Linked DNA regions of Homo sapiens. The protein of the gene in region 1 purifies or fractionates together with the protein of each later gene. This does not show direct contact. Each region holds a gene or a part of one and is shown on either strand. Other genes may lie near its edges. The genes, in order: C8orf74, FGFR2 and MORN2.

Evidence for each region.
Region 2: the proteins of C8orf74 (region 1) and FGFR2 purify together in Homo sapiens (affinity purification with mass spectrometry; 3 studies listed by BioGRID and IntAct, with this or other methods). This does not show direct contact.
Region 3: the proteins of C8orf74 (region 1) and MORN2 purify together in Homo sapiens (affinity purification with mass spectrometry; 3 studies listed by BioGRID and IntAct, with this or other methods). This does not show direct contact.

What each region holds. Positions count from the first base shown.
Region 1 is NC_000008.11:10,668,749-10,675,627, forward strand, and holds the start of C8orf74 (uncharacterized protein C8orf74), read left to right. Parts: upstream 1-3,879; 5' UTR 3,880-3,917; coding exon 3,918-3,965; intron 3,966-4,910; coding exon of another isoform or gene 4,911-4,952; intron 4,953-5,834; coding exon of another isoform or gene 5,835-5,897; coding exon 5,898-6,090; intron 6,091-6,879.
Region 2 is NC_000010.11:121,474,815-121,485,666, forward strand, and holds the end of FGFR2 (fibroblast growth factor receptor 2 isoform 1 precursor), read right to left. Parts: intron 10,719-10,852; coding exon 10,581-10,718; intron 8,990-10,580; coding exon 8,884-8,989; intron 7,364-8,883; coding exon of another isoform or gene 7,358-7,363; exon of another isoform or gene 7,010-7,357; intron 5,300-7,009; coding exon of another isoform or gene 5,237-5,299; exon of another isoform or gene 5,208-5,236; coding exon 5,043-5,207; 3' UTR 4,857-5,042; coding exon of another isoform or gene 4,767-4,856; 3' UTR 3,518-4,766; downstream 1-3,517. UniProt on the Homo sapiens protein: Tyrosine-protein kinase that acts as a cell-surface receptor for fibroblast growth factors and plays an essential role in the regulation of cell proliferation, differentiation, migration and apoptosis, and in the regulation of embryonic development.
Region 3 is NC_000002.12:38,876,639-38,886,111, forward strand, and holds the end of MORN2 (MORN repeat-containing protein 2), read left to right. Parts: intron 1-3,540; coding exon 3,541-3,591; intron 3,592-3,961; coding exon 3,962-4,068; intron 4,069-4,803; coding exon 4,804-4,940; intron 4,941-5,774; coding exon 5,775-5,877; 3' UTR 5,878-6,071; downstream 6,072-9,473. UniProt on the Homo sapiens protein: Might have a role in spermatogenesis.

The DNA.
Region 1 (6,879 bases):
GATAATGTGACCATACCAATATACCTTCTTATATTTCCAGCATCCAAGCTCATGTCTTAGCAGGCGGTCAATGATGATGACAATGAAGATGATAAAAACCATACTGATGATGATAATGATGATAGAGAATAAAAAGGGAAAAATAATGGTCAAATCTTGCATGCAACCAAGAATAGTCAAAAACTCTATTGTAGAGGTGATTCTTGTAGCTTGAAGCAAGTGGTGAAGTAAACTCTGCTTTTGTACTAACTAGAAGCCTAAATGTCAGGCCCTACCTGGAAAACTCCTGAATCCTGCAGCAGTGTTGATAGCATGGCCAATTCTTAAGTTATGTGATTTTTGCACAAGATATTTAATGCATCTATGCTCAATTTCATCTTATATCAAATGGCAATGTTAATAATTATATCCATCTTATAGAACTGTTGCAAGGATTAAAAGACATAATGAATTTGAAGCTCTTGAAATAGAACTATCTACTAATGAAAAACACTCTTCACTGCTGTTTGGTAACTCTGTGAGGCTTTTATTTCATTTTTATTACCAAACAGGCCTTTAGGATAGGTAAACTGAGATCCAAATATTCATCCCACACACAATAAATGGGAAAAGACACCACAAATGCCATTAAGCTCAAGCCTGCCATGCCATGTGGCTTTTGCATGGCTCTCAGAAGAGATTTGAGAATGTCCATGTTTCTTTAGCAAGAGAACATTGGATGTGGCCAAAATGAGTCAAGAACATAGGTGGGCTCTGTCCGTAACCAGTTTTTGCCATCAATGTCACTTTGTGATTCTTTTGATTATTCACCAGTAAACTTGTACTGAGTCCCAGCCACCATCCAGGCCTGCAGTGGGCACCAGGGCTCCAGAGGTGACTAAGACATTGTCCATGCCCTCGCAGGACCAGCAGGCTAAAGGGGGAAGCCACCATTCAATCAATACACAAGGTGCAATGTCATAAGAGCCATGATAGAAATGAACACAGCCATGCAACACACAGTTGTGCCTACTATGTGCCAGGTATGTACAGTGGTAAATAACACATTCATAAATAAAACAAAATGCCCTCTTTGTCTTACAATCTAGGAGAAAGCAGCATTAGAACAATCATCTACATGAAATGAAAAAATTACAACCTGCAAAGTGCTACTGGGGGTGCATTTAATGCTACAAGAGCATGTGACAGGGACTCAGGAAAGGTTTCCTTGAGAAAGGGATGATTAACTTGAGACATGAAAAGCCAGAAAGAGTTATCTAGAAGAGCAGAGGAAGAAAGAGCATTCCAGGGAGAGAGGGCAGCAGGCAAAGTCCTGGAGGGAGTGTGGGTGAAGCCAAGGCCAGTGTGGGCCGGAGAAGAAAAGGTCACATGAGGCTGGACAGCCACATGAAGGCCTTGGGGCTTATGAATGAGCAGCCATGGAAGATTTGGATGCAAGAAATTGACATAGTCTAATTTCATATACGCATGTATTTGTGTGTGTAGAGAAAGGGGAGAAGGTGTAATATACATAAAATTCAGAGATCTTAAGTGAGACATATATATACACCAGTGTAACCACCTCCTGAAAAACGATGCTACACAACAGCACCCTAGCAAGTGCTCTTGACAATGCCAGTCCATAATTAGATTTATTTTTTTAGTTACCTCTGGCAACAGTGTGGAGAATGGATGGTGTAGGTGTGGGGGTTGGGGGGGGTGGCAAGAAATGGGAATGAACTCTACTTGGGGTAGCAATGGGATTCAGAGAAGAGAATGGGCTCAATAAATGTTTAGGAGGCAGAGTTCCCAGAGCTTCAAGGCAGCTGGAAAGGAGTGAGGGTGAGGAGTCAAGAATGAGGTCCAGTCCATCAGGTGTGGTGGCTCACGCCTGTAATCCAAGAGCTTCAGGAGGCCAAGGCAGGGGGATGGCTTGAGGCTAGGAGTTTGGGACCAGCCTGGGCAACATAGTGAGACCCCATCTCTACAAAAAAAATATTAAGAATAATTATCCAGGCGTGGTGGGTGTTCACCGGTAGTCCCAGACACTCGGGAGGCTGAGGCAGGAGGATCACTTGAGGCCAAGAGTTGGAGGCTGCAGTGAGCCATGATCATGCCACTGCATGGCTTGAGCAGTGGAGGGCACCTGATCAGCCAGGGTTGAAGAGGGATCTGGAGGGTTTTCCAGAAGAACTAATTTTCGTAGAGGCTGAGTTTGGTGGTGTCAGTTAAGAGTCGGCCAGGTGGGGGGATTTAGAAGTGCATTTAGGGAGGACCCTGAGAATGGATGAACAACAGGCAAGCAGAACCAGGGGTCAGGGAGGCGTTCCTGACAGCGCCGTGCCAGCACCTGGCCCCCGCCTACCTTAAGCAGACGTGAGATTTCTCAGTCATGTGAGACAGCACATTCGCATTTGGCCTAAGGTCAGGCTGAGTCTCTGACAATTGCAGCAAAAAGCGCTGTACTAATACTGACTCTGAGAAAATGGAGCAGGATAGGACACGGGATGAGAAGGGGCTCTAGCCTTGGGGTATGGAGACCCATCCCAGCTGCATCCTGGGGAGGTCCCGGGGCCACAGACTTGGGAAGGACTCGAGTGAGGGGCTCCACCTGAGGGCCAAGGCATGGTGTCAGCCTGGGGGACACCCCTAGCACTGCATTCAGGACAGCCCCTGCCAGAGGAGCCTGGACATGGAGACCCCCTTCTGACCCCGGATCAGGACTCCTGCCAGCGACACACCCCAAACACTCAGAAGCCCCCGAGGACCCCTGGACACCCCACAGGCGGCGCAGGTCCGCAGGTATCCGTTCTTTGGGGAGAGGTGTGGTGAGTCGCACACTCCAAGACAGAGAGGGGTGAACACCGCCACTGCGTAAATGTGTGAGTCATTTTCTGTGGATGGACATTGAAGTCACGTGGTTGGATAAAGTCATTGAAGACTAGGTGGCCAGGAAGGGCAGTGAGGGCCCTGAAATATCACCATCACGACGGGAGGAAGGTGGGCGGGTCCTTGACGCAGTCACGTGGCTGAAGGAGGATGACGGTTCAGGATGGCCAGAGCCTCTTCCAAGACAACCCCCTGGGGAAATGGGGTGACCTGGGGAGCCAGGGGTCCTGGGCAGCTGCCCACCAACCCTGGCGAGTAGGACCAGGCTTTCCTCACTGGGACTCTGGGCAGTGAGGCAGAGGAAGGAAGGACTTGCCTCCCAGGCAACCGGTGGGTGCCAGTGACTTCCAGGACAGAGAAGAGCAAGGCTGGCCCGGAGAAGGAGCGAACCCCTCCCAATCGCCGCCTTCAGGGGCTTGGGCACTGCACTTGGGGACACCCCTGAAGAACTGTTTGCTCTACCCCAAAGCAAAGTCATGACACCAGAAACAGAGCCATGGATGCTACTGGCCAGTGGAGGAGGTCGGGGAGGCCAGACCCTAATAGGAGGAGTCAGGGAGGACGTGGAGGCAGCAAGCCCGGGCAGTCCTTTCCGTGGAGACAAACACCCCGACCTGTCGGCAGGCAGGAGGCATGAGGCTACAGTCAGAAGAACATGAGGATGACGGGCAGCATGTGTGCATGCGTGTGCGCGCGCATGCATGTGTGTGTGCACGTGTGTGTACATGTGTGTGCCTCCGTGTGTGCATGTGTCTATGTGTGTGCAAGAGTGTGTGTGTGTGTGTGTGTGTGTGTGTGTGTGTGTTTATGGGAAGCCTCAGAATGCTCACTTCCTGAAGGAGAACAGGTTATGAGGGAGAGGCAAGGGGGGGTTCCTGTCCCTGAGCAGGTGCAGGTGACCAGGCCCAGCGCATCGCAGGAGGGGCCGGGAGGAGAGAAGCCTGGGAGAAGCCATTCGTGACCTAACAAAGCTGGCACTGGCCACCCCCAGGGTTCCGGAAACTCTGAGTCAGTCTGGCTCCGTCTCCTGGCAACCAGATGCAGGGGCCATGGCACTCTTAACACCCCAGGGAGTGAAAGAAGTCTTCCAACTTCAGGTGAAGGAAGAGAAAATGTGGCTTTTAAACAGAAACTGGCTCATCCTGGGCACATAGGGAGGTGGGCACTGGAAGCGCCTCTTCAGGAGACCCCGGGGCAGCCACCCCGGCTCAGCACAGCACCTCTGAGGCTGTGACGAGATGTGGGGCCCAAACTTCAGGCCAGGGCTTACCAGCCCCTGGACCTTGTGGGCTGTTTTTCAAGCCACATGCAGGCCCAGAAGGAGCAGATCCTGCCTGAAGGGAAGTGAGGGACTGTGCCTGCCTCCTCTGGGACCCTGAGGGTCCTGCGAGCCACTGTGTGCAGGGAGTGTGTTGGGGGAGGCTCTGCTGCTTTCTAGGGGGTGCTGTCTAGATTAGGCAGAAGAGTGGTGGCAGTGGAAGAGGAGTCTCTGGGGGCCGAGGACAGGACTCTAGGCCTCCCTCTGTCACTAAGGCCACCATTGGTCCTCCAGGGTCCCTTGGGGTCCTCCCAGCCAGAGGATCCCTTGCCTCAGGAAAGCAACACTCTTGCGTGTGGTGGGTGGGTCTCTGCTGCACCCCAAACATTTTTTTGCCACTTCCTTTAAGTGGCACTTGCTTCTCCTACATCTGCTGGGAGCCTATAAGAACTTTCCAGAAGGGCCAGCTGAACTCTCAAGTAAAATGGGTTTTTACTTCTAGGCAGGGAAAAAAGTTTACCTTTTCCTCTTGGCCTGCCCGTGTGTCTGAATTTTCACCAAGCAAGACTCATTCCTTCTGCTAAAGCATTACCTCACCAAGCCCCTTCTTGGTCAGTCACTTACACTGTAGTATAAATTTCATTGTCAGATCAATGCCTCTACTGCAGTCAGTTAAGAGTAGACTCAGGAAAGTCAAATTTTATTTTAGGCAGGGGGATAGGGATCGTATTTCAGAACCTGAGGCCTGCTGGAGGTACACAAAACCTGGGCTGCAGTGGCCAGCATGAGAACTCTCAGAGGAAAGAAAGTCCTAGAAGAAGAGCAAGTCCCAGGAGGAGGGAGTGCTGCCCAGAAACCAAAGCACAGCTCTTCCCAGGGGTACCCACATACCTAGTTACTCTTCAGGGCTCTGGAGCACCACTGTGGGGACCCCAAAAGTGTCTTACCCAGTAGAGATGGCTTCTCAACTCCTCAACCCCATATTATACCCTGCAACCCCCATATCACACTCTCCAGCCTCCATATCATACCCTGCAACCTCGATATCATACCCTGCAGCCCCATATCATACCCTCCGACCCCCATATCATATCCCACAACCCCCATATCATACCCCACAACCTTCACATCATACCCCGCAACCCCCATATCATACCCCACAACCTTCATATCATACCCCGCAACCCCCATATCATACCCCACAACCATCATGTCATACCCTGCAACCCCCATATCATACCCTGCAGCCCCCATATCACATCCCACAGACCACACATCACACCCTGCAGCCCCCATATCACAGCCTGCAGCCCCCATATCACACCCTGTAGCCCTCATATCATGCCCCACAACCCCATATCATACCCCACAACCCTCATATCATACCCTGCAGCCCCCATATCACACCCCGCAGCCCCCATATCACACCCTGTAGCCCCCATATCATATCCTGCAACCCCCATAGCACACCCTGTAGCCCCCATATCATGCCCTGCAACCCCCATATCACACCCCGCAGCCCCCATATCACACCCTGTAGCCCCCATATCATATCCTGCAACCCCCATAGCACACCCTGTAGCCCCCATATCATGCCCTGCAACCCCCATATCACACCATGCAGCCCCCATATCATGCCCTGCAACCCCCATATCACACCCCACAGCCCCCATATCACACCCTATAGCCCCCATATCACACCCCGTAGCCCCTATATCATGCCCTGCAACCCCCACATCATACCCTGCAGTTCCCATGTCATTCCCTGCAGAGACCACAAGGTCGGGAGCGCCTGCGGAGGCTTCTGAACTGGGAGGAGTTTGACGAACAGAGAGACTCCCGGAGGAGCATCCTGCTGGACACCCTCTACGAGAGCATCATCTTTGCAGTGGGCAAAGGCTTCCCATGGGTGGAGGTGGCCCAGGTGGTCAAGTTCACAGAAGAGCTGCTAAGGGAAACCAAAGGTATGGTGTGTCCAGGGCAGGAGTCAGCAGAGGCTGGCGGGATGGGGTGGGTACACATAGAACTCCCCTGCCGTCCACAGCCCCAGCAGCCTTGGAGGAGCCAGGGCCCCTTCCTGCCCTTCCCTGGCATTGGGCCTCCTCACATGCTTAAAAATAAGGTCTCTACTCAGCCTTCCCAAACATCCTCACTGAGTCTTCATTGGTCTGCCTGACTGCAAATCTGAACCACTCCAAGCTGTTTGCACAACAGCCAGGGTGTTTGCTTTTGTTTTGTTTTCGTTTGGTTTTGCTTAACATAAATCAAATGTGTCACCTTCCCTGACTTAAAACCCTTCATGGACCTGAAGGGCTGCACGTTGTTCCTGGTAGGAGATCTGGCTTTGCTGCAGGTGCCGGGGGAGTCCTGGAGCTTGCTCACGCAAAGATGGGGGATGCAGTCAGGTGGGTGCATGGAAGCAGCATTGCCCACTCCCTGGCCCTGTGCAGGGCTTGCATGAGAAAAGGACCTGGTGGCATGAGGAGCTGTGGTCACTCCACCCACCTCTTGGGCAATGAAGTGCAGATTCATTCATTAAGCAAATACATGGGGCAGGCTCTCTGGGGCTGCCCTCACAGTGATACTTCATTCCACTGAGAACCATCCATGGGTGCTGAAAGTGGTGGGCGGATGCTTGATGAGAAATGGGATACTTCCATGCTTTCTAAGAACCTCTCCCACAACATCCTTCGTAGTGACAAAGAGAAAGGAATACTCTTACAGGGAAGAAGCTGACAGCTGCCTCCTTAGTC
Region 2 (10,852 bases), on another chromosome or scaffold:
GTATTTCAAAGGTCCGGAGCGGATGGTTCCCCAGTGCCGGACATTGAATGCCCTCCCATCCACTGACTTCTACAGCACCTCATGTGACCTTCTGAAACAGGACTTCAAGGCAATTTGGAGGAGCCCATTCAAAAATCCCAGACACCCGGCATAAAAAAAGGGCACAAGAAGGGCCCTACTCCAGAATGTCACTTGAGACATGGACGGCTTCTGCTGTCCCTGCCCAGGGTCGACAGCCAAGTCATTTCAAGGCTCCTGGGGATGAAATGTGAGAGAAGATAAACTTTGCTTTCATCTTTAAAACCATGAAAAAATAAATAACATCAAAATGCAGGCTTGGTAAGGAGGAACCTAATGGACCCACATACATAAGTAATGGTGCATTCATTAGTCCGCATGGACTGCTCAAGCTTGCGTGACTTTACTTGGTATAAAACTGGGGATGTGAGGACAGATACACTCAAGCATTCCAGCCAGAAAGATCCTGCATCCTTGCACCACTTAGCAGTGCTTCCTTCCTCTCTCAGCCAAGAGGGAAGACAGGGAATTGATTGGTTTCTCAGCTTCTCCATTTCATGAAGATCCACTGAGGCATCTTAGCTACCTTGGCCATTTCATCAGTGTAGAAACCAAGCTGATTAATTGAAGTATCTTTTTCTGGAAAAACCAGGAAAGCATTATGTATCTTTATTCAATGATCTGCATCCTATCTCCTCAGCTACGAAATTCTTATGAAGATACTTCATATCCACTAGGATGGCTATAATAAAAAATATGGATAATAACAAGTGTTGACAAGGATGTGGAAAAACTGGAATGCTCATGCACTGCTGGTGGGAATGTAAAATAGTGCAGCCACCTTGGAAAACAGTCTAGCAGTTACCATATGATCCCGCAATTCCACTCCTACATATATGCCCAAGAGAAATGAAAACCTGACCACACAAAAACCCAGTACATGAATGTTCATAACAGCACTATTCATAACTGGAAAGTACAATCTAAATGTCCATCAATGGACAAATGGATAAACAAAATGTAGTAAATTTATATCATGGAATAGGATTTGGCAATAAAAATGAAGTGCTGTTACAGGCTACCGTATGAACAAATCTTGAAAACATTAAGTGAAGAAGTTGGACAAAAAAGGTCACATAGCATATGATTCCATTTACATGAAATGTCTAGAGTAGGCAAATCCATAGACAGAGAGCAGATTGGGGGTTGCCAAGGACTGGGGGAGGGGGAAATGCAAGTGGCTAACAATGGGAATTTGTTGGCTTTATGGAGTGATGAAAACGTTTTGGAATTAGATAGTGGTGATGGTTACACAACGTGGATATACTAAAATCACTGAAATGTAGAAAAAAATTCTCAGGAAGTAGAAAACGAACACTTATTGAGTCCTGTCTGCCACAGCTAAGCCCTACAGCAAATCCTCATGGCAAGTCGAGAGGCTGGTGAGGACCAGGTTCACCTAGAGACAAACATCCAGACAGAAGCTGGGATTTGCGCACCATCACCCAGCTGTAAGAAACAAACCAATCAATTCTGTCCAAGCCCACAAGTCCACTGTCTTTCTCCTGCACTGAACAAGGCTGCAGTCTTGTTCCTTAGACCACATCCCAGCCATGTGACCCTCAGGGACCTCAAGCGGAGCCTCAGCTTCCTCTTCTGTCCTAGCTGAGCCCTCTGGACCCAGCCCTGCAAGCAATCTTCAGTGATGCAGTATAAGGTAGCAGCCCCATTTCTTGTTTTCAAAACTGGAGGTGGAGTCCTCAGTTCATAGCAGCTCAAGTTGTTCAGACGTTTTACTATAAATGCATGTTTTAATTTCCTATGTTCCTATGTGTGGGGTTAAGGAACTCCCCACAAGATCAGATGCAGAGAAGCTCCCTGAGGAGGGATGGAGAGGCTGTGTGGTGGATGCAGGGTACCCTGTCCCCTGGGAATGCACAGAACCCCCGTGAAGATGCTACTTTTCCACCCGCTTTCTCTGGCTCCCCATCCTGCCAGAGGCTACCATCAGCTAGACGTTTTGAGGCAGCCTCTTGGATATGCCTTTCCCAGTTAGGAACAGCAGGCCGGGCACTACACATCCAAGATGCCTGCAATCTTTTGGTTCTTCACAAATGAACTCATCTCATGATGGTTAGGTGACCATCACATGTAGTTGCAACTAATTTCCAACGCTCTCCTTAGGTTCTTGGGGGAGGAGAGCCATAAGCTCCAGGATTCTTATCGAATCCTACCTGTGTATGCTCATTTGGGACAGGTCTCAAAAAAAAAAAGGTACTGTATTACCTATCATTCTCATGGACCACACTGCCTTCTTGCCCTTCATGACAAGTGTCTCTTTCAAAATAATTCTAAAATCAAAATGGCCAAAAGACCATTTAGGATTCTTGCCCACCCATCTCCATGAAATGGGCCAGAAATACAGCAGTTCTTACTGCCATTATAATCTACACTGTCAAGGCTATAAACTGCCCTTCAGTGTCTAAAGTACAGCATATGCACCAGAGAGCTGCACGGAGGAACCAGCGTAGACCCCAGCAAGTCCATCCTCACCCTTGCCAAGGACATCTCACGGTAGAAATGTCCCCAGGGGTACAGAACATCACCCTGTACACTTGTGTCTAACAGGTGACAATTTTCTTAGGTGGCTTTCATGCACCTTATTTTTAAAATCACATTCCCAAGAGCCCTGTTATCCTGTAAGAAACAGAAGGACAGAGGTTTGGGAAATACAGAACCAGGACCCTAGGCCACTCCCCTGATGGCTGGTGACACCTTGCTCCACCATGAATGGCCTCAAACAGAAAGAAGACCCCAAAGACAGCACTCTTTACCAATGGCCCTGTAAGGTTCTAAGAGCCTGGCTGAAGTGCAGGAGAAGTTGGCCTATGTTCAATTCCCTTTCCTGCTGCTGATGAGGCTGGCAAGTAGATACAACAGACCCTTAAGAGTCACAGATTCACATTTGTTAACTGACAGGCAAAACTCCATTTCCCTCTTCAGATCGTTGGTGGTATGAAAATAAATAATTATTCGAACATTTGTCCAAGTTTTCTTTTGGAAAATTTGAAGCAAATCCTTCTCTCCATACATCATGAAGAAAACAGCCTAAAAGGTTTTTAAGTCCCCAGGATTCAGATGTTCTGAACGTCTTCCCTACTCAATACCTGTCATCCTTAGGTCACCTTCCAGTTTGCAAAGCTCTCTACCATGTGGCTCTTTGTTTGCTCCTCTGGGGAACTGGTAGGGCTCAGAAAGGAACGATGATTCCATTGAGGTGCCAGTAAGCAACCGAGCCAGGGCTCCAACCAACTGATTCAGATTTTCCACTGGATCAACCTCAACCTGTCACAGGTACTGCTGGTCTCAGTCAACCCCTCTGGCAAGTCACCCCCGTGTGTAGCACATAAGACCCTTGGCAGCCCTGCCCTTCCTGCATTCACAACAGCACTCAGTCAGCACCTCCAAGCACAGGAAACCATTTGGTAAGACACGAGTATTAAAAAAATAAGTTGCGTGACATTTATTTTGTCTTGTTAACATTAATATCTGTAGAAACATTTTTATTGTCAGTATAAAAATTAACAGGTTTTATTAAATACTTTCTCCAATTTTGTAACACATAAGATCAGTGTAATCTGCATTCATCTTGCACGGCTATTGCAAAGTGAGTGGGTGTTTCCAAAGCAAAACACAATACTTTAGTACAGAAGGAACAACGGCGATATTTTGTCTGATGTAGGTATGAGGCTGGATCTTTTGGTGAGGTCCTGCCAGAATTAGATGAAAGCAATCCCTTAAAAAGATGGACGTATCCCCAAAACTATCAGCAGAACAACTCTGTGTTTCAATTTTCTATGATGGGACTTGAAGATCCTAACAGGCGTCTCCAACGCCAAAGAGTCTGGAAGCCATTATCAAAATTCACTGAAGAGAATACAGGCTAATCTGATTAATGTGCAACTCAGAAGCAGAAGGCCAGCTGCCAGAGAGAAGCACATTCTGCTATCATTTCAACTAAGGTCTGTCCTCAAGGAATGGATTAAGGCATCTTTTAAGAGGACGCTGGTACCATTTATCTTGGGAAGTCCAGTTAGACGTTGCGTTGACGTAATGACAGGGTTGCACACCAAAATGAAACACCTTCCTATGAATGAGTTCTTTTAATATGGGGCATTTAGGAGGTCTAAGAACAATCGTCTGACAGCAGCATTTAAACACAAATAAATCAAAACTTCATTTTCCCCAAATTAGTCATATATTGTAAATATTCTCTTTTCAAAGGATCTGATAACTAGTTAAGTCCAAGCAATAGATTAACTAGTCTGCTGTGCTGCCTGCATAGAAATGCCACTTAAATTACAAAAAAAACTATAAATGATTAATTGTTTTGTATATTACCAATTTATTAATAAATTAACGTTATACCATTTTCCCTGAAAGCAAAAGTATTTTTCCACCTCTGCTCGGTGAAAATTAAGAAATTATGTGTAAGAACAGCATTTAGCAAATAGCTATTAAAAAAAGAGAGACCAATTTTCTAGGTGCATTGGGACATCCATTTAAAATCAATACAAAAAATAACTCCTTGTAAATATATAATATATATTTATACATAATTTGAATATATTTACATACATCCAGCACCTATATACTGCATTTGTGCTCTGTAAGTGTGTGCTGACATAAATCTTCTCCAATTATTACAAAATTAACAAGGAAGGCAGAACGCACGTCCACCTTGAGTCCTACTGGTCCACAGCCAGTACGCACGGCAGGTGAGAGGGGTTACATGGTGGCTTGTGGCAGTCCACTGCTCCAGAAACCTTCTTCTCCTCCTGGGGAAGATTACAAGTTTTCAACTGTATAAATCTTTACACATATGCTGATTACTTTTCCAATTATTTACTCCTCTGATCCATATATACAAGTGGAGACAACAAGCTCTGGGAGGCATGGTCTCCCTGCTCAGTGTAGCTAGGTTCCCAGTGCTGTCCTGTTTGGGGACAGGCAGACACAGTCATTCATGTTTTAACACTGCCGTTTATGTGTGGATACTGAGGAAGGCATGGTTCGTAAGGCATGGGGTCTGGAGAAAAAACAGAATCATCTCCTGAAGAACAAGAACTTCTTGTGTCAGGGTAACTAGGTGAATACTGTTCGAGAGGTTGGCTGAGGTCCAAGTATTCCTGAAAGAAGGGAAGAGAGACGTTTTATTTCATCTTGGGTCAGGATAACAAGGTGAATACGGTTCGAGAGGCTGACTGAGGTCCAAGTATTCCTGAAAGAAGGGAAGAGAAGAGTTTTATTTCAAACACAAACTCTTGAGATGTGGGTATTGGACGTGGGACAGGACAGGAGACCCCTAGAAGGTGAACAGAGACCCAGCCCACCTGACTTCCACGAAGACCTCCCTGAGACCACGTCTGATGTACCCCAGGCTGTCCTTAGCTTTTCTCTTGGAATCCATCATAAATCAACTATTGACAGGTAGAGAACAATAAAACCTAGTTGAGCTATAGGTGCTGGGCAGGCAACTCGGCTTCACACGGACCTAAATAACCCGCTGAGTCTACACCACCTCCTCACTAGAGCCCTTGCTTCAAATGCGAGCCCCAGCAAAATGAAAACCGGTAACATGTTGTGGGTCCCCAGACCCCCTTTAAGTAGTTGAGACTATGAATATTTATTTTCTGAATTACATTTTACTATTGTAGTTTCGGGGATAATTGAAGGGGAATACTTCTTCATTCAGTGGGTAATTTAACAGATGTAACTGATTACTCTCAGAAGCTCTCCGAGTTGAAAATGTAAACAGGTTCAAAAAAGGCTTAGACATACTCATGTATGTTAAATCCATAATGCACTGTTAAAGGAAACTTCAGGAAAATATCGGTTAAGTTTCAAAGTTTTGAAGGTTCGAGATTCAGAAAGTGTCCTTTGCTCCCCAAGGCATCCAGTGCTGGTGCTGCAAAAAGCCCTCTGGATCACCCCAGGGTGACACTTCCTCCGACTTGGGTGCCCACAGACGACTTTGTATGGCCTGAGGGCTAAAGATGGTCTTTAACATTGGTAAGCGGTTGAAAAAAAAAATCAAAAGAAGAAGAATATCTTATAGGATTAAAATGAATAAAATTTATATACAATTATATAAAATTCCAATTTCAGGATCCATAAAATTTTACTAGAAGACAGACTAGAACACATCTATTTACATATTGTCTGTGGCTACTTTGAGGCTACAGTGGCGAAGTTGCAACAGAGACCACAGGGCCGGCAAAGCTGAAAATATTTACTCCCTGGCCCTTTACAGAAAGCAGTTGCCGACCCCTGTTCTGAAGCTATGAAAAGCTTTCTAAATTGGGAACTTGTGGGTCTCTCTGCCTCCACTGGGCTGGCACAGTGGGGCAGTTCTGCTCACACATCCAGAAGCCAACAACTATTCTATGACATGTGGTTTTGCTGAGAGGGGGCAAAAAGTGCAGACCACAGCACAAACAGCCTCAGTGTTATCAGAAAAGAGCCCATGGAATGTTGGCAACTAGACATTTTTAAAGACACACACACACACACACACACACACACACACAAAACCCTCTAATTCATCACCAGGGTTGGCAAGAGAAAGAGTCCCCATCCCAGCATCCCAGAAGGGGAATGTATCAGTTCCAACAACATCAGCATTAACCACACAACTGGAAACAAACACGCCCACCACATCAAAAGAGAACTTTTTGCTTACAATGATAAAAACGAAATTTTGTCCTAAATGGAACCGTTTTTCTTGAGCATATGGTAATGATTTTCAGAAGGAAAGAAACTTCGATTTTTATATCCACCAGACAATATGGCATTCTGCTTTTTTATTTTAGGGTACTAGATACAAATTTCAGTATCAACGGACCCACTCTACATGTAAATATATAAATAAATCACTTTGAGCATAGACATGAGATCATTAAAATAGAACTTTAGTGCTTTTCCCGGTTTCTTTCTTTTTTATTTTTATTTTTTTTTTTTTTGAGACGGAGTCTCGCTCTGTCGCCAAGGCTGGAATGCAATGGCATGATCTCGGCTCACTGCAACCTCCGCCTCCCCGGTTCAAGTGACTCTCCTGCCTCAGCCTCCCGGAGTAGCTGGGATTACAGGTGCACACCAACACGCCCGGCTAATTTTTTGTATCTTTAGTAGAGACAGGGTTTCACCATGTTGGCCAGGCTGGTCTGGAACTCCTGACCTCATGATCCGCCTGCCTCGGCCTCCCAAAGTGCTGGGATTACAGGCATGAGCCACTGCGCCTGACCAACTTTTCCCAGTTTCTCAATGAAGCCATAAACTTTCAGATCTGATAGGAAAAAAACAGGGATATCAGTAGATTCCAAGTCTACAGTTAAAGGAACTTATACTAGAAACAACAATTTTGGCAGAAGAAGAAAGTTGGTTTCTTCCCCCCCTTGAACCGTTCCTTTCCTTTCAACTTCTGAAGGTCAGCTGTATTCATTTAAGTGCAATCTCTTCCTTTATCCAGCACAGGCCACAGTCAGACGCATAAGATAAAGCTGCTGAGCTAAGACTTCATATCACTACATTTGATTATTACTTTTTAAAAAATCACTCTAAAACTATTTCCTAAATCAGAAATTAAGTGTATTATTTTCCTTCTAAAATACTTGGGGGACTTTAACTTTTTTCTTGTTGAGACAATTGCATGGTTTGGAGTTAGTTTCCTGTGTAAAAGAACACTATTGTGCATCCTCATTAAATATCTCAAAATACATTCATTAACAATTTCTCTATCTTAAGATTTGACTAGACTTGATGGGTTTATCATCTTTCCTGCTCAGAGCATATGCTTTCCATAATTATAAAAGGCACTCTATCTGCATATTGAAGGAGCCACTGACATGGCTAAATTTGCACAGTGAGTGACAGACGAGTGTTTATTTTGTTGGCAAGGATCATAAATTATTATTATTTTCTTTTTGAGATGAAGTCTTGCTCTGTCTCCCAGACTGGAGTGCAGTGGCGCAATCTCAGTCACTGCAAACTTCACCTCCTGGGTTCAAGCGATTCCCCTACCTCGCCTCCTAAGTAGCTGGGATTACAGGCACATACCACCACATCCAACTAATTTTTGTATTTTTAGTAGAGACAGGGTTTCGCCATGTTGGCCAGGCTGCTCTCGAACTCCTGGCCTCAGGTGATCTGCCCTCCTCGGCTTCCCAAAATGCTGGGATTACAGGCGAGAGCATAAATATTTTAGGGAAAATAAATATTTTAACAAAAGGTACATGTTTTTATGTAAAAATCATGTAAGTTGCTCATTGTAGAAAACAGTGTATGTTTATATACACCTAGAAAGAGGCTGCAAGGCATATAGCATTACCAACAGGATCACATAGGATAGTACTGTGGTAACAGAAGCTGGTGTTAGAAAACTTCATTGTATTCCATCAAGCAAATGATGACGAACATTATCAGTTTACCCACTAATGACCAAAGCACAGAATCAAACTTGCACAGGAATCCAAGCTTTTTCCCATGCACACCAAAATGCAAGTGAATACTGCTTCCCCTTTCCCACTCTCCCACATACCCCGGACTGCTCCACCAGCAGCTACACTGAAGGCAGCCTCGGGGATGTCCCTCTGTCTTTGGTTTCATGAGTCAGAACTCACAAAATGAAGTTCTGAGAAAAATCATGATTTGAGAGGAACCCATAGTTGAACTATCTGACCCTATGGAAAAAGAATAAACAAGACCACAGACTCCAACCAACAGCCAACAGGGGAGTGTGTGTGTAAAACACTACGCATGTCTCACAAGACAACCAAGGACAAGGGGCTTCTAGAAGGAAGTTCTTACCTCATTGGTTGTGAGAGTGAGAATTCGATCCAAGTCTTCTACCAACTGCTTGAACGTTGGTCTCTGGGAGGGCACTGCATGCCAACAGTCCCTCATCATCATGTACCTGGGAAAAATGGATTTCCTTGAATTAATTTCATATGCACTGGGTACGTGGTTATAGTCAGTTTTAATAGGCAATATGGGGACGTGGTGTAAATTAGGAAAATGCATCAGAACCTTCCAAGCAACTAGATTAGGGGGTCATGAATCACTTTCCCAAAAGCTTCCCTGCCAGTTCCTCCGAAAGGCACTTTGACTTACAAAAACATGTTAGAAAGGCATCGAAGCCATCAAGAAAGACACAGCTATGTGTTTTCCCTGGTAACCCTGGGCCACAGTGACATCTCACAATGGCGTCACACCCTAAAGATGCTTTGGAGGCTGAAGGAAAATGCGTATTTCCATGGGCTGGTCTCCAGTCTTCCCTCCCCTGACACCCTGCCCAGCACCAAAGCAGCTCCACTATTTATCTGCCCGGTGCTTTGGGTCTTAATGATTCTAGTTGACACAGCTTCCTGAGTTAAAAAAAAATTAAATAAAATTTGAAAACTACAACTTCAAGTTTTTGATGAATTAATCTGCCACCACTGGGCTGCACACTAACTTCCTGATTAACTCTTAGATAGGCTTAGCTTCCCAGGTCTTATCTTGATTTTGGGTTTCGACAGATCCTCTACGTTACAAAAGAAAAAAAACAATAGGAATGACAAAGAGCACAATAAATGCCTTTATATAATATGCTATAAAATGTGGCCATTCATCAGACATCCACGGTACACCGAAAAGCACTCACGGGATTACTGATATAAAATCCCCATGAAATGATACACAATAGACCGCAGTTTCTGGGACAATCACTCTTCTTAGTTAATCCTGGAGGGGTTGAGGCAGGAGGCAGAGAGACTCCTTTCAAAGCACTGATTCTATTGCACCAGGCACACGTCACAAACACAACATAACTCCACTTAAAGTGTGAGGCAGGTTTTGCTACAAACCAGTTCATGGTTTTACAGGCAGATCTGGTACAGTAAGGAGGGCGCCTGGACACATGTTTAATTCTCTGCACTAAAACACAAGTGAGACCTAGGTAACCAAACACGAGTTCCTTCGCTCTGAGGAAATGTGGTTGGCGTCAATCTGTAATGGCAATTTTCAATGGTTCGAGAAGTTCTGGAAACACCGATTCTCTACTGGCCACGATGGGGCCAGGCGGGGGCCAGGCACAACCACCAGGGAAAGGCTGTGTTGGTTCCTTAATCCTACACCCTGCAGGGCGGCCCCGCGGCTTTCTAGCTTGTTTCCTGACCCGTGGGTCTTCCTGTCACTCCACGGGAGACCGCAGAAGGTGCAGCACAGTGGCCCAGGAAGACCACTCCTGCTGGCTCTGCAAAGTCAGGAGCCCTCAGCCAGGCAGCCAGACACCCTCTGATCCAAAGCCCTCTCCATACTCAGAATAATGTTCTTTCTCTCAGACAAGTAATGGTTGTCGGTGTCGCTATGTATCCCAGCTCTGGATTGAGCCCAGAGAGCTTCAGCCATTCTTCTTAGAGCATGTTTAGGAAACCAGGGGCCTTCAAAAACGAGATACATCAGGAGAGGTATTACTGGTGTGGCAAGTCCACTGGGGCACCGGCAGGAAAGACAACAGCCCTTACAGTTCGTTGGTGCAGTTGGCTGGCTTATCCATTCTGTGTCCTTCCTTCAGCAGCTTAAAAAGTTCCTCCACGGGAATCCCTGGGTAGGGCGAGCCCCCTAAAGTGAAGATCTCCCACATTAACACCCCGAAGGACCAGCTGCAACAAAAGGAGAAAGCACGGCATTACTAACCCATCCACGTTGCCAAAACCTAAACACGCCCAGCTGAGACATAAACACCTCCTCACTTCTGAAGTTCAAAGACAAATGGGCCCTCCTGCAGTTCCTCCTA
Region 3 (9,473 bases), on another chromosome or scaffold:
GCATGGTTTTAATAGAACCTTAAGTACTACAGTAGGAATAGGCCCAGAGTGCCGTGGGGGTTCCTGAAGGAGTCTGAGGTTGACAAGTAATGAGAAGAAAGGCTTTGTGGGAGAGCTCATACCTGAGCTGGGGCTACAAGAATACAATAGCTAATATTTACAGAGTTTAGACACTGGGCTAAGTGCTTTAACTAGATTAGCTCATTTACTTGATTTGCCCCATCTAAGGATGAGGAAACTGAGGCATAAGATAATTATTTGTCCAAGGTCAGAGAAAATGGTGGAGTCTGGATGCAAAGGTAGGTAGTCCGATGCCAGAGCATGAACCCCTAACTACTACACTCTATTTTGCCAACTCTTGAGGATGAATAGCAGTTAACCAGGTAAAGAAGAGAAGGGTGTTCCACCCAGAGTACGGCATGGCATCTGTGGGAAACTACAAGCAGATCTGGTAATCTAGTTAGTTATCATTAGTTAAACACTTAGAAAGTAGCTCTGACGCCTGTAGTTCCAGCTACTTGGGAGGCTGAGGCAGGAGAATGGCGTGAACCCGGGAGGCGGAGGTTGCAGTGAGACGAGATCAAGCCACTGCACTCCAGCCTGGGCGACAGAGCGAGACTCCGTCTCAAAAATAAATAAATAAATAAATAAATTAAATTAAATTAAATTAAATTAAAAAATAAAAAAGAAAGAAAGTAGCTCTGTGTCCCTGCTCTCTTGGAATTTCACATCTTGCAGACATGTAAATAACTAATTAATGAGCACACATGGCAATTTCTGTATACCACCATACTTCACCCTTTATCCACAACCAAATCTTAGAAATTATGGGGAAAAAATAAGCAAACATAACTAAATTCAGATTTTTCTAAGATTTAGTGTTAATTAGTGTCTATATTTAACCCCTAAACGAGATCAGAATTCTAGCAAGATTGCTCTCTATCCTCCACACCATTTCCATATTGATATTACCTGAGTTTTAGTTACAGATTCTTTTTTTTTCTTTTTGAGTTTTTAATTTTGGTGTAGATGGAATCTCACTATGTTGCCCAGGCTGGTCTCAAACTCCTGGGCTCAAGCAGTCCTCCCACCTCACCCACCCAAAGCGTTGGGATTACAGGCATGAGCCACCAGATTCTATTTTTAAAACTTAATTTTTTTTATTTTATTATTTTTTTAAGACAGAGTCTTGCTGTCTCACCCAGGCTGGAGGGCAGGGTGTGATCGGACTCACTGCAGCCTTCACTTCCTGGGCTCAAGCGATCCTCCCACCTCAGCCCCCAAGTAGCATGGACAACAAGCATGCAACACCACACCCAGCTAATTCTTGTATTTTTTGTGGAGAATGGGTTTCACCATGTTGCCCAGGCTGGTCTCGAACTCCTAGGCTCAAGCAACCCACCCTCCTCAGCCTCCCGAAGTGCTGGGATTCCAGGCATGAGCCAGTAATTCATCCTACCAGCGTGCCTGCCAGTTTCCATGATTTTAGATTGATAGTTTCGTTGGATGTAGAATATTAGGTTGAAAATAATTTTGTCTCGGAATTTTAAAGACATAGTGCCATTTTTTTTTAGAATCCACTGTTGCTAATGTCAGTCCTTTGTAGTTTATTGTAGGTAATCTGGTTTTTGTTTGCTTGTTTTTAACTAGCCTAGCTGGCCTTTGGTCTTTATGTCATGAAATTGTACTGTAACCTGTCTAGGTGTGGGATTTTGCTTAGTTCCCATTTGTAGTCCAAGCAGTCATTTTCTTCAGTTCTGAGAAAAATTTGGCTATTTATTCAAATATCCCTTATTCTTTCCCTCTGGAATTCTTATTAGACTGACAGTAGCCTTTTGGATCCACTTTCCATCATTTTAAAATTCTTTGTGCTACTTTCTTTTTTTTTAATTAAAAAATTTTTTTTCCAGCCATCTCACTCACACTTTGTGCTACTTTCTAAGCACATTTTTCAACCTAATGTTCCAGTTCACTAATTTGTTTTCAATTGTATCTATTCTGCTTTTCATCCCTTCTAAGAAGTTTTATTTCACCAATTATATTATTCATTTCCTGGATTGCTAATTGTTTTTTGTTTTTTGTAATCACCTGTTCCTATTTCAAGGATACTAATACTCTCCCTTTCTCTCTGAGGATGTTACAGTTTAAGTCCTCTACCTATTGTGTTAACTCTGTTTCCTCAGTGATGAGCCTCCAAGCCTTTCTCAAGTGGTACCTAAATTAATTTTTAAATTCCCTTGCCCCACCCGTAAAGACTGATTCAGTAGATGTGGGGTAGAGAGAAGAAACTTAGAAGCATCTCAGGTGATTCTGAAGGATGGGCCTGCATACCGTCTCTACATAAGTTTTCTTCAGTATCGGAAAATACAGTTTCTAGTTTTAGTCCAGTAAGTGTCCAGGGATCTGAGGCCCAGAGTCCCCCTCAGTCTTGCGGTCCTCTTTCTTCCTTTTTCACTTGGTCTCCATTCCAGTCTCATTCTGTGTGGACCTACCAGCCCTTCCCCACTTGCTATCTTTATTTTCCATTTCTTCCTATTGCCAATTTAAAGATTCCTCACTCCACCTTACCTCTGTGGGACAATCAGTAAATCATATGGGCTACCAAAGAGAAATAAAAACATATCCACACAAAAATCTGTACACCAATTTTTTTTTTACTCCTAGGAAGCTGTATGTTTTGAAAATGTACATCAGTGTTTATAGCAGTATTATTCATAATGGCCTCAAACTGGAAACAACCTACATGTCCATGAACTGATGAATGAATAAACAAAATATGCTGTTTCTGTACAACATATTTATACAATATACTTGGCTATAAAAAGGAATGAAGTACTGATACACGATGCAACATGGATGAGCCTTGGAAACATTAAGTGAAACGAGCCAGACATAAAGGACCACATATTATATGATTTCATTTATAAGAAATGTCCAGAATAGGCAAATCCCTGAGGCAGAAAGTAGATTAGTGGTTGCCAGGGGTTTGGGGTTGTGGGGTGAGGGGTGTTTGAGGGGAATCATAATGGGTAACTGCTAATGTGTACAGAGTTTCTTTCTGGGATGATTAAAATATTCTAAAATTAGATTGTGATGATAGTTGCACAACTCTGAATATACTAAAAAAATCAAATTGTATTTTTTTAAAGGGTAGATTTTGTGGTGTGTGAATTATATATTAATAAAGCTATCATAATAAATAAATTTTAAAAGAGATCATCTAGGCAAAATTGTTTATTTCCCCGGGACCCTACATTAGACAATGGAAATACCAAGTAATCATGATATGATGTGATCTTGAGAAGTAAGTCCATTTGGATAGTGCTGAAAGCACATTGGGTATAGGTCTTATGACATAAGAATGTTTACACTTGGTTGGGTGTGGTGGCTCACATTTGCATCCCCAGCACTTTGGGAGGCTGAGGCGGGAGGATCGCTTGAGCCCAGGAGTTTGAGACTGGCCTGGGCAATGTAGTGAAACCTTGCCTCTATCGAAAAAAAAGTAAACTTATGTCACTGTTTTTAAATCTTTTAAAACAGCTTCAGAAGTGTATAAGATCAGCTTTATCTTTCCAAATGGAGACAAGTATGGTAAGTATACGCTTCAATTACTTTTTCTGTATAGAAAATTAAATAGCTTAGGAATAAAAAACTGAGACTGTTAAATTTTATAAAACTACTATTAGGATATTAACTTTATTAACTAAAATAACAGAAATCCTAATAGATAAAGAGCTTTTAAAATCAAAATTCCAATGCCTTGGAAACCTATGGGATCTGTCAATCTTCCTGGCCCTTGAGTCTCAATTGTTACAAGATGTTCTGTGTCCATGGATTTTCTCATCTCTGGTCTCACTGGTTTCAGTGCTAGGGAGCCAAAGAAACCCATGAGGTGTAGTTGCGATTAGGCCCAGACATAACTATTCTCATTTATAATCTTCAGTTTTTCTCCTCTGTTTAGATGGTGACTGTACAAGAACATCTTCTGGAATCTACGAGAGAAATGGAATAGGTATTCATACCACTCCTAATGGGATTGTCTACACAGGAAGCTGGAAAGATGACAAGGTATTATTGTTGTTTTTAATATTGGCAGTGGATAAATAACCCTGTAGGTTTAGTGATTCCAGGCATTTCACCATTAATCAAAAACTCCTATAATGAGTAGACTATATAATAAAAATAACAAATGATCATATTAACATATATTAACTTATGAGTAATATTAAACTCACTGTAGAAAGCTAATCATCGTTACTTTCTTTCTCATCTCCTATTCATTGAGTAAAGCTGAATCCGTTACATAATTTTCTCATTTAATCCTCATAATAACCTCATGAGATAGGTACCATTAATACTCTATTTTACAAATGAGGAAAATCAGGCTCAGGTTTCTTGCCCAGCTAGTAAATGATAAAACAGGAAAGTATACCCTGGTCTGCTCAAATCCAAATTTGAATTCTTAACAACTACTTTGTACTGGTTTCCTGAACTAACTAAACTGGTTGCCCTTTAAGATTTCTGATACATTCAGGGTATCTTGAGGACCCCTATTTATCTTCATCATGGACCCCCTGATGTTCAAATGTCCCAGATCCAGAACATTTAATTTACTGGGCTTCACAGATAGATACAGATGAAGGAAAATGATAAAAATGTTGTCTTTATACTATGGAAATAAAGGACAATACAAAGTTGGTTAAGTAATAATTAGCAGATGATAGACTTATATTTGTACATTTTTTAAAGGTTCTTGGGAAACTGAAGATTAGTTTCTAAGGTAATTTCCTTTGTTACAAACAGATGAATGGTTTTGGAAGACTTGAGCATTTTTCAGGAGCAGTATATGAAGGACAATTTAAGGATAATATGTTTCATGGACTGGGGACTTACACATTCCCAAATGGGGCAAAGTATACTGGAAATTTCAATGAAAATAGGTAAGCTTAAAATAAAAAAAAATCACTGCATTTCTAAAAGATTATTTTCTGGTATGTTTGCTTAAATACTTATTTATTTATTTATTTATTGAGACAGAGTCTCCCTCTGTCATCCAGGCAGGAGTGCAGTGGAGTGATCTCGGCTCACTGCAACCTCTGCCTCCCGGGTTCAAGCGATTCTCTTGCCTCAGCCACCCAAGTAGCTGGGTCCACAGATGTGCACTACCACACCCAGCTATTTTTTGTATTTTCAGTAGGGACGGGGTTTCACCGTGTTGAGCAGGCTGGTCTAGAACTCCTGACCTCAAGTGATCTGCCTGCCTCGGCCTCTCAGAGTGCTGAGATTACAGGCGTGAGCCACTGTGCCCAGCTGCTTAAATACTATATTTAGTTAATTCTAAATATTCTTTTATGATATAGTTTCTAAAAATTGTTGGAGGCCAGGTGCGGTGGCACAGCACCTCAAACATCATTGATAGTGAAAAAATATTTGTTGAATAAGTGAAGTAATTAAGCTAGATAACCGATATAAACTTTTCATTTTTTTAACTCATTGTTTTGGTTTTGTGTGAACCTAGATTATGTGATCCTAAAATCTTGGACACCAAATAATTGTTTGTTTTTGTTTGGAATAGTATGTGGTTTTTTTTTTTTTTTTTTTGGTTTGTTTGTTTTTTTGGTAGGATATGAAAGCAGGATGCTGGGTTTAAAAGCAAAGCTTGAAAGTAGAGGATATAATCTTCAGACATAGTATATATTATGCTAGAAAATCTTATATCTGGACTGTAAATTATTCATCTTTGTTAATGGAAAACTTATTTTCTACTATTGCAGGGTGGAAGGTGAAGGGGAATATACTGATATCCAAGGACTAGAATGGAGTGGTAACTTTCATTTTACAGCTGCTCCAGACCTGAAATTAAAGCTTCACATGTAGATGTGATGTTAAATTAAAGTTGAAATGTAGTAATTGAAGCTTTTAGTTGTAAGGAAAGCAACTTAATCTGTTATTTGAAATGACTTCATACACTACCCCTATAAGTTTGCCAATAAAACCATCACCTGCTTACACCTTTTTGAACTTTATATTCATTGTCTTACAATTAGTTTAAAATAAATGACATGATTCAATTCAGTCTGCTTATTATAATAACTATGGCAGAAGCATCCAAATCTTGGCAAAGTTGATTTCCAATCCTCTGTTTGAGTTTTGTCATTTTTTTTTTTTTTTTCTAGTTTGTGCTTGTGTGTCCTGGTCAACATCCGACCTCTTTAAAAAAAAAACAACTTTTTTTTTTAGGCTGTAATACATTTTATTCATTTCTTATTATTTTCTAACTTTTATTTTAGGTTCAGGCGTACATGTGCAGGTTTGTTATACAGGTAAACTCATGTCACAGTGTTTGTTATACAGATTATTTTGTCCCCTAGGTACTAAGCATAGTACCAATAGTTATTTTTTCTGATCCTCTCCCTCCTCCCAGCCACCATCCTCAGGTAGCCCCAGTGTCTGTTGTTCCTTTCTTTGTGTCCACAAGTTCTCATCATTTAGCTCCCACTTATAAGTGAGAACATTCGGTATTTGGTTTTCTGTTCCCGTTCTGTTAGTTTGCTAAGGATAATGAACACAATTTTAAGTGTACAATACATTATTGTTGACTATAGGTACAATGTTGTACAGCAGATCTCTAGAGCTTATTCATCTTGCTTGACTGAAACTTTATGGCCTTTTATTAGTTACCTCTTATTTTCCCATCACCCCAGCCCCTGGTAACCATATTCTACTCTTTGATTCTATGAATTTGACTATTTTATTTTTCTTATTTTTTATTTTTTTGAGATGGGGTTTCACTCTTTTTGCCCAGGCTGGAGTGCAACAGTGCAATCTTGGCTCACTGCAACCTCTGCCTCCCGGGTTCAAGCTATTCTCCTGCCTCAGCCTCCCGAGTAGCTGGGATTACAGGCACTTGCCACCATGCCCAGCTAATTTTTGTATTTTTAGTAGAGATGGGGTTTCACCATGTTTACCAGGCTGGTCTCGAACTTCTGATCCACCCGCCCTCGGCCTCCCAAAGTCCTGGGATTACAGGTGTGAGCCACCCCACCCGGCCACATTTGACTATTTTAAATACCTCATACTTAAAAGTGGAATCATATAGTACTGGTCTTTCTGTGACTGGCTTATTTAGAATAATGTCCTCAGGGTTCATCCATGTTGTCACAAATCACAGGATTTCTCTTTTAAGGCTGAGTAGTATTCCATTATATGTGTAAACCACATTTTCTTTATTCATTGTGGTGGACTGCTACTATATGAGTCAGCAATCCTACTTCTGGGTGTTTATCCAAAAGAATTGAAGCCGGGTGCAGTGGCTCATGCCTGTAATCCCAGTATTTTGGGAGGCCAGGCAGGCCAGGCGTTCAAGACCAGCCTGGCCAACATGGTGAAACCCCATCTCAACTGAAAATACCAAAAAATTAGCCAGGGGTGGTGGACGTTTAGTTTGTTTCCACATCTTGACTATTGTAAATAGTGCTGCAGTGAGCATAGGAGTACTAATATTTATTTGAGATCTTGATAGCAATTCTTTTTTTTTTTTTTTTTTTTTTTTTTTTGAGATAGAGGAGTCTCACTCTGTTGCCCGGGCTGGAGTGCAGTGGTGTGATCTCGGCTCACTGCAACCTCTGCTTTATGGGTTCAAGCAATTCTTGTGCCCTGGCTACCCAAGTAGCCAGGATTACAGGTGTGGTCCACCATCCCTGGCTAATTTTTTGGTATTTTCAGTAGAGACAGGGTTTCACCATATTGGCCAGGCTGGTCTTGAACTCCTGGCCTGCCTGGCCTCCCAAAATGCTGGGATTACAGGCATGAGCCACTGCACCCGGCTTCAGTTCTTTTGGATAAACACCCAGAAGTAGGATTGCTGACTCATATAGTAGTTTTTTGTTCTTGTTATTTATTTATTTATTATTATTATTATTTTAATGTGGACCACTTCACAAATCTGCATGTCATCTTTGCACAGGGGCCATGCTCATCTTCTCTGTATCATTCCAATTTTAGTGTGTGTTCTGCCAAAGCAAGTACAGTAGTTATATTTTTAATCTCTTGAGGAACTTCCATAGGATTTACCATAGCAGCTGCACCATTTTGCATTCCCAGCAACAGTGGGCAAGTGTATGGTAACCCAGTTCTTCCCACTTTCTTTCTGTGCCCTTACTGAAAATCACAGAGTACCTTGACTGCTCTGTGACCCAGCTGGCTATATGTTTTTCTCAGCAGGCTTGAACCCAAACTGGGCCTTGAACATTCCCAAGCACTGAGAAAGGTATTTCGGTTGTTGCTCAAAACACTGAAACTGGCCCCCAGCCCTGAGCCAAATTTCTCAAACTGTCATAGAAACTCCAGACTCTGATCCCCTTGCTGCAGACATACCTGGGTAGAACATTCCTTTTCTCTCTCAGCAATTGCTGCAGCCCTCTGTAAGGAAGTTTCCCTAATAAATTCTTTGGACTGATCACCCTAGAGCTTAGAGTTTTTTCTTTGGTATTCCAGCCAGCCCTATCTCAGGACAGTTGGAGACTCCCTTGTGGGAAGTCCCCCTGCCACTGCTTTTGGGGTGATTCCAGCCGAGGATTTGAGGGTTTAGAGAGACAAAACAGCAAGGGTTCAATTTCTCCACCTCCTTAGCATTTGTTTTTTGTTTTTGATGATAGCCATCCTGTCTGGTATAAGGTGGTATCTCATTGTGGTTTTCATTTCTATTTCTCTGATGATTAGTGACATCGAGCATTTTTCCAAATACCTATTGACCATTTATATGTCTTCTTTGAAAAAACGTCTGTTCAGTTCCTAATCCATTTTTAAATCAGGTTATTAATTTTTTTTACCATTGAGTTGTAAGAATTCCTCATATATTTTACAGATTAAATCCTGATCTGATATATGATTTGCAGATATTTTCATCCATTCTGTAGGTTGTTACCTTTTCACTCTGTTGATTGTTTCCTTTGCTGTGCAGAAGATTTTGGTTTGATGTGGTTCCACTTGTTTATTTTTTGTTTTGTTGCCTGTGCTTTTGGTGTCATTATCCATGAACTCATTGCCAAGATCAATGTCATGAAGATTTTCCCCTGTTTCCAACAACACATGGAAAGGGTCATATACCATGACCAAGTGAGATTTATCCCTGGGATGCAAGGATAGTTCAACATACGAAAATCAACTAATGTGATATTCTACATTAACAGAATAGAGGACTAAAATCACATAATCAGCTCAACAGATGCAGAAAAAGCATTTAACAAAATTGAGAACCTGTTCATTATTTAAAAAAAAACCTCTTAACAAATTAGGAACAGAAAGAAATTACCTAAACATAACAGAGGTCATATATAAAAAGCCCACAGCTAACATCATACTCAACAGTGAAAAACTGAAAAGCTTTTACTCTAAGACTGGGAACAAGGCAAGGATGCTAACTCTTGTCACTTCTATCTTTAAAAAAGTATACATTAAAGGAGACTATCAAG